Homo sapiens: one gene and its partner. The protein of the gene in region 1 purifies or fractionates together with the protein of each later gene. This does not show direct contact. Each region holds a gene or a part of one and is shown in the gene's direction. Other genes may lie near its edges.

Region 1 (4,118 bases):
TGTTTGTGTTTTTGAGACAGAGTCTCGCACTGTCGCCCAGGCTGGAGTGCAGTGGTGTGATCTCAGCTCACTGCAAGCTCTGCCTCCCAGGTTCATGCCATTCTCCTGCCTAAGCCTCCCGAGTAGCTGGGACTACAGGTGCCCGTCACCACATCCGCCTGATTTTTTTGTATTTTTAGTAGAAGGGGGGTTTCACCGTGTTAGCCAGGATAGTCTTGATCTCCTGACCTCGTGATCCGCCCACCTTGGCCTCCCAAAGTGCTGGGATTACAGGCGTGAGCCACTGCGCCCGGCCTGTTTGTTTGTTTTTGAGACAGGGTCTCACTCTGTTGCCCAGGCTAGAGTCCAATGGTGTGATCGTGACTCACTGACGCTTTGACCTCCTAGGCTCAAGTGATCCTCTCACTATGGCCTCCCTAGTAACTGGGACTACAGGTGGTGCATGCCATCATGCCTGGCTAATTAAAATAATATATTTTTTGTAGAGTTGGGGTCTTACTGTGTTGCCCAGGCTGGTTGCGAACGTCTGGGTTTAAGTGATCTCCTACCTCACTTTCCAAAGTGCTGGGATTACAGGCATCAGCCACCATGCCCAGCCTGTTTCTTTTACTACCTGTCACCCGCAGGACTTGCACCTTCGAGATCCCCTGTGTTTACCCAGCTGGAGGATGATGAACAGTCGTGGGTGCCCAGCTGGGTGGATGTGACTCCAGTCAGCAGAGCAGAAGCCAGGAGAGGTTTTGGTCTTGGTAAGTGGAGTGGAGGGGAATACCTTGGTTTCAGCAGTGGGCTCACAGAATGCTGAGTACCTGCATACACCGATACCTTGGTGTTGAGGGCAGTGACCATACCTTATTTCCTTCCACCTTTCCTGTCTTATGTGGACACTGTGCAGTCTGCCATCTCTACCATGATTTTCAGGCCCCGCATGTTCCTGCCTCTCTGGCCTGCGTCTCCTCATTGCCCTTCTCTGTATCTGTGCAGAGCTGTCTACTGTTGGCGACTCAGTGCGTGTCTTGAAATGTGCACATATCCTTAAACAGGTATTTGAACTTCAGCCAATCCTTAATTAATACTTAAACACCAGCTACTATTTTGGAATCACATTTTGCTGGGACTAGACACATGCCTCCTCATAGTGCTTGGCTGTCACCAGCAGCCAAGGCCCTGCTGAAACCCTTTGCAGAGGAGTGACTTGGAGACCCCACCTCTCTTCCCTGCACCATATCCTATCTTGTGCCCTCATCTCAGTTGAGGTTTTCCTTAGTCTGTAGTCTGGTGGAGCCATATTCAGTTGTGCCAGGCTTTCCCAACCCAGACCTTTCCTAGCAACCTCTCAGCAATTCTTTTTTTTTTAAGATGGAGTTTTGCTCTTATTGCCCAGGCTGGAGTGCAGTGGCGCAATCTCAGCTCACTGCAACCTCTGCCTCCTGGGTTCATGCCATTCTCCTGCCTCAGCCTCTTGAGTAGCTGGGACTACAGGCGCCTGCCACCATGCCTGGCTAATTTTTTTTTTTTTTTTTGAGTCGGAGTTTTGCTCTTACTGCCCAGGCTGGAGTGCAGTGGCGCGATCTCAGCTCACTGCAGCCTCTGCCTCTGGATTCAAGTGATCCTCCTGCCTCAGCCTCCCGAGTAGCTGGGATTACAGGCATGCATCACCACACCCGGCTAATTTTGTATTTTTAGAAGAGATGGGGTTTCGTCGTGTTGGTCAGGCTGGTCTCGAACTCCTGACCTCACGTGATCTGCCCGCCTTGGCCTCCCAAAGCACTGGGATTACAGGCGTGAGCCACCACGCCTGGCCCTTTCAGCAGTTCTATGGAGTCCTTCTGGGTGTGTCTGACATGCACTGGTGATTAAGGTACCTCCTCCCTCTAGTTCAACTCTTAGTAATGATTCATCTCTGCTTTCAGATGGTTTGTGTAGAGTGGAGGATGAGAGAGCCCATCCTGAGCATCTAAAGAGCTACAGAGTCATCCAGCACCAGGACACTCATAGTGAGGGGAAACCAAGAAGGCACACTGAGCATGGGGCAGCTTTCCCACCTGGTTCCAGTTGTGGGCAACAGCAAGAAGTCCATGTGGCAGAGAAGCTGTTCAAATGCAGTGACTGTGGGAAGGTGTTCTTAAAGGCCTTTGCCCTCCTTGACCATCTGATAACGCATTCTGAAGAGAGACCCTTCAGATGCCCAACAGGCAGAAGTGCTTTCAAGAAGTCAGCTCATATTAACCCCCGAAAAATTCACACTGGAGAAACAGCCCATGTGTGTAATGAATGTGGGAAGGCCTTCAGTTACCCGTCTAAGCTGAGGAAACACCAGAAGGTTCACACAGGCATAAAACCTTTTAAGTGTAGTGACTGTGGTAAAACCTTCAACCGCAAAGACGCACTTGTTCTACACCAGAGGATTCACACTGGAGAAAGGCCTTACGAGTGCAGCAAATGTGGTAAAACCTTCAGTGTTCTGTCTACCCTCATTCGGCACCGGAAAGTGCACATTGGAGAAAGGCCCTATGAGTGTACAGAATGTGGGAAGTTCTTTAAATACAATAATAGCTTCATTCTTCACCAGAGAGTTCACACTGGAGAAAGGCCTTTTGAATGCAAGCAATGTGGGAAAGGCTACGTGACCCGTTCAGGCCTCTATCAGCACTGGAAAGTCCACACTGGGGAACGGCCCTATGAATGTAGCCTGTGTGGGAAAACCTTCACTACCAGATCCTACCGCAATCGGCACCAGCAGTTCCACACTGAAGAGAGGTCTTATGAATGTACAGAGTGTGGGAAGGCCTTCAAACATAGTTCCACCCTCCTTCAGCACAAGAAAGTCCATACTCCAGAAAGGCGTCAGGAGGACAGGGCACATGGGAAGGTCGTTAGCTGCTAGCACCGTGTTCATCAGGAAAGGTCTTATTCCAGAAAGGAGGTTAAGGAGAGTGGCCGTGAGAGTGCCATCCGAAAGAAGCTAAACCTTGCACATCCCAACACCCACCCCAGGGAGAGTTCCCGTGTGTGCCTGGTGTGTGGGACGCTTTCGGGAGCCACATTGCACTCTGACTTGCCTGGGGCTGTTGGCAGTGTCACATCACTGAGTTTATCCACCGCCATCCACCTCTATCCACCCCATAAGGTCCCTACAGCAAGTGGGACAGCAGACCTTGTGCTCCTTGCTCTAAACAGTAGAGAATCGTTAATAGTGGAGCCCAAAACAGGCCTCATTCCCTACCCTTGACTGGTTTAGCTGTGGACATGACCCACCTCTGGCCGGAGGAGCTGAGCTGGTATCTGCTGGGGGCTTCCTGGGAAGGTTTACCATTTTCATGGAAATGGTTGACATTACACATGGTATTTGTCATGCCCTAGCATGGACTGTCTCATACTGCTCTGGACTATGTGGTAATAAAGGCTTTATTGTTTAAGCCGCTTAAAATTTTTTTTTTATTTTTTTTTTGAGATGGTCTTATTCTGTTGCCCAGGCTGGAATGCAGTGGTGCCATCATAGCTCACCACAGCCTTGAACTGCTGGTCTCAAGGGATCTTCCTGCTTCAGCCTCCTGAGTAGCTGGCACTACAGGTGTGCGCCATCACACCTGGCTAATTTTTTTTTTTCATTTGTGGACAGGGTCTTGCTATATTGCCCAAGCTGGTCTCGAACTCTGAGCCTCAAGCTATCCTCCTGCCTTGGCCTCCCAAAGTGCTGGGAGCCACTGTGCCTGGCCTAGTTTTTTTAGAGACAGGGTCTCACAGTCTTGCCCAGGCTGGAGTGCAGTAGTGTGAAGCTAGCTCATTGCAGACTTGAACTACTGGACTCAAGTGATCCTCCTGCTTCAGCGTATTGAATAGCTAGGATTGTACTTGTGTGGCACCACATCTGACTAATTTTAAAAATTTGTATAGAGACAGGATCTTGCTACATTGCCCAGGCTGGTCATGAACTCTTTGCCTCAAGCAGTCCTCTTGCCTCAGCCTTCCAAAGTGCTGGTATTATAGTTGTGAGCCACTGTGCCCTGCCAAGTCTCTTTTAATATTGAGGTTCTGATCCCTGTGTGTGGAGAGATTGAGAATAGAATCCGGCACTATCACCGTAAGTTGAGGGAATGGCTTTTGTGGAGGTGGTC
Region 2 (3,500 bases), on another chromosome or scaffold:
GTTTTTTTTCACCCTTTGGCCATCCTGATGGTGGTATCACATTGTGATTCTAAAAATTCTCTAATGACTAATGAGGGTAAACTCCTTTTTATATGTTTTTTTCCACTTGGATATCCTCTTTTGTAAGATACCAATTCAAGGCTTTTCTTACTGATTTGTAGCAGTTCCTCATATATTCTGGATAAGAGTCCTTTGTCATATGCATCCCAAGTATGTTCTCTTCTTCTGTGGCTTATTTTCTTCATGGTTCCTGTTAATGACTAGAAACTCTTAATTTTAATGAAATCCAATCTACCACTTTTTTCTGATTAGCACTTTTTATGTCTTGTTTTAAAAGTTTTTACTTACCACAAGGTCAACAAGATATTCTCCTGTGTTTTCTTCTAAATGCTTACTTGTTTGATTTTTCACATTTGGATCCACAACCCATCTGGGATTGATTGTTATATACATTGTAAGGTAAGAGGTCAAGATTCCAGTTTTTCCATATGGATACCAATTGAACCAGTATCATTTACTGTACACTGTCACTTTTGTCATGGTAATATTTACAGGTCTATTTTGGAACTTTTTATTCTTTTCTTTTGGACTGTTTGTTTATCCCTGTGTCAAACCTACATATCAGTTTGGATAAAAGAGGCATCTTCACAGTATCCCAGTGGAAGTGATGATAGCAGACATCTTTGTTTATTTTTCCATCTTAAAGGGAAAGCTGGCCAGGTGTGGTGGCATGCGCCTGTAATCCTAGCACTTTGGGAGGCCGAGGCGGGTGGATTGCTTGAGCCCAGGAGTTCGAGACCAACCTGGGTAACATAGCAAGACCCATGTCCTTTGAAAAAGGCAGGGAAAGCTTTTAATCTTTCACTGAGAAGTATGACGTTGGATGTAGGGTTTCTGTAGGTATTCTTTCTCACAGTAAAGAACCTCCCTTCTATTCCAAGTTTGCTAAGAATTTTAATCTTGAATGGGTTTTGAATGTTATCACAGGCTTTTTCTGCATCTATTGAGGGGATCATATGATCTTTTTCCATTTTTATGTTAACGTGGTGAATTTATTGCCCTTCAGGTAGTAAACCTTCTTATATTGCTGAACTAGATCCTGTTTGGTTGTGATTTATTATACTTTTTATACATAACTAAATTTGACTTGCTGATATTTTGTTTGGGGTTTTTACATCTCTGTTGCAGAGAGAAATTATAAGATTCTTGTCAGATTTGGGTATCATGCTTATAATGAGTTGGGAAGTGCCATCATTTTCTATAATCTGTTTTCGTATGAGATTAGCCTTCTTTCTTCAAATGATGCTTGGAAAATTTGTCAATGAAGTAATGAGGTAGGTGTGTGTGTGTGTGTGTGTGTGTGTGTGTGTGTGTGTGTGTGTGTTTGGGAGCAGGAGAGGAGAATTTTCAATAATAAATTCAAGTTCTTTGATAGATATGAGTGTCCATATTTTCAATTGTGAAAACAGTTGTTCAAAGAGTAGCTGCCCTGTACTGAGACAGACGACCCAGATCCAGCAGTAACTGTGGACACGTTGACGTGGAAAGATATCTCATGCCTTCTTTTTTTTTTTTTTTTTTTTTTTTTTTGAGACGGAGTCTCACTCTGTCGCCCAGGCTGGAGTGCAGTGGCACAATCTCGGCTCACTGCAAGCTCCACCTCCCGGGTTCAAGCGATTCTCCCGCCTCAGCCTCCCGAGTAGCTGGGACTACAGGTGCACGCCACCACACCCAGCTAATTTTTGTATTTTTAGTAGAGACGGAGTTTCACCATGTTAGCCAGGCTGGTCTCCAACTCCTAGCCTCATGTGTTCCACCCGCCTCGGCCTCCCAAAGTGCTGGGATTACAGGCGTGAGCCACTGCGCCTGGCTTCTCATGCCTTCTTGTTAAAGGGATTCATTCTGACCCCTCCGCAAACACAATCACTTCAGCGTTTCAATTTCTCTTTCTTGGGTGCTCCCCCACCATTCTTACCTCCCTGTTGTTCATTCCATCCTGACCCCATTTGTCTACAGCAGGACATGCTCTGATGCTGGTGTTTCTTTTGAAGCTGCCGCCTGCAGTTCCTTTTACCTTCTTTTTAGATGTTCATGAGAGCGCAGTTTGACTATGATCCCAAAAAGGACAATCTGATCCCTTGCAAGGAGGCGGGACTGAAGTTTGCTACTGGGGACATTATCCAGATTATCAACAAGGATGACAGCAATTGGTGGCAGGGACGGGTGGAAGGCTCCTCCAAGGAGTCAGCAGGATTGATCCCTTCCCCTGAGCTGCAGGAATGGTGAGCCATTTTTGTGCAGGTGGAAGGGCCATGTGCCTGCCACAAATAACTTAGCTTCAGAAAATCTGTCATTTTGTTTGTAGTTTCTGTTTCTCAACCAAGGAGACCTCCTAGATTTCCTGGCATAATGGGTGGGGGAGGGTTAACCATGCGTTGATAAGCTGGACTGAGAGGCAACCACAGGCAAGGGAGCCCAAATAGCTCTTCATTCTTATGTGGGCCTCTTGCTTCCTTAAACGTTTTCCCCATAGTTACCAAGCACGTGACAGTGCTGGGACTGAGCCCTCCCTGGTCTCCTGTTTCCCAAGCTAGTGCGCTTCTACCAGCCATGCTGTTTCTGGGATTTCCTTGGAGTCCTGCAGAAAACAGTCGCATTTAAGTATGTGTCCTTTAGGCACATTCCTGGTACATGGAAGAAATAATTCCTGTCCCCGAGTCAGATTGCTCACTTAGTCCTGGTTACATCATAGGAATGGCAGAAAAATTCACAAAACAGTTCCAACTGATAAGACATCCAACACTGAGCCTCCCTCTGCCTGTGCAAACTTACCCCAGTGTAAAGATTACAACCATTGTGGGGTTGACACTGAATAGAAATATTAGAATATATTACATGTAGTAATACAAGTTATTGTTTTGTGAAGCAGTTGTTTTAGATATATATGTGGGGTGTGTGTATGTGTTTTGTTTATAGATGTATGTGCAATAATGGCTTGCAATGTACAGTGTATTTCTTAGAGTGAGGTAGGGTCATAAAGGTTTGAGACCTTTATGGTCTAGACCAAAGAAAGAGAGTTGTTTGTGGGTTGTGTCCAGAATGTGCTGACAGGTACTAGATGACACAGACTCAAGGAGCCAGGTCCCTGACTGAGGGCAGGGCACAGTGCAAGATGCACCAAACAGTGTATGGGGTGCTTTGCACACATTATCTCCCACTGTAATGGACACTCAGAGAGTGAAGGGGGTGCCATTAGAGACTGAGTGGCTGGGGGGGGTATGAGGGGAGGGGGAGGAAAGCTGACCCCTTGATTGTCTTTTCCTACCAGGCGAGTGGCAAGTATGGCTCAGTCAGCTCCTAGCGAAGCCCCGAGCTGCAGTCCCTTTGGGAAGAAGAAGAAGTACAAAGACAAATATCTGGCCAAGCACAGCTCGAGTAAGCTTTCTGAGCCTTCTTGCCCCAGGTTCCTGGCAGCATTCACGTGTTTCCCAGTCTCTGTA

The links. Proteins that work in one complex are often made in the same cells at the same time.
Region 2: the proteins of ZNF584 (region 1) and MPP1 purify together in Homo sapiens (affinity purification with mass spectrometry; one large-scale study listed by BioGRID and IntAct). This does not show direct contact.

What each region holds. Positions count from the first base shown.
Region 1 is NC_000019.10:58,414,898-58,419,015, forward strand, and holds the end of ZNF584 (zinc finger protein 584), read left to right. Parts: intron 1-626; coding exon 627-749; intron 750-895; exon of another isoform or gene 896-921; coding exon of another isoform or gene 922-1,043; intron 1,044-1,913; coding exon 1,914-2,887; 3' UTR 2,888-3,430; downstream 3,431-4,118. UniProt on the Homo sapiens protein: May be involved in transcriptional regulation.
Region 2 is NC_000023.11:154,784,986-154,788,485, reverse strand, and holds part of MPP1 (55 kDa erythrocyte membrane protein), read left to right. Parts: intron 1-2,085; coding exon 2,086-2,282; intron 2,283-3,328; coding exon 3,329-3,435; intron 3,436-3,500. UniProt on the Homo sapiens protein: Essential regulator of neutrophil polarity. Regulates neutrophil polarization by regulating AKT1 phosphorylation through a mechanism that is independent of PIK3CG activity.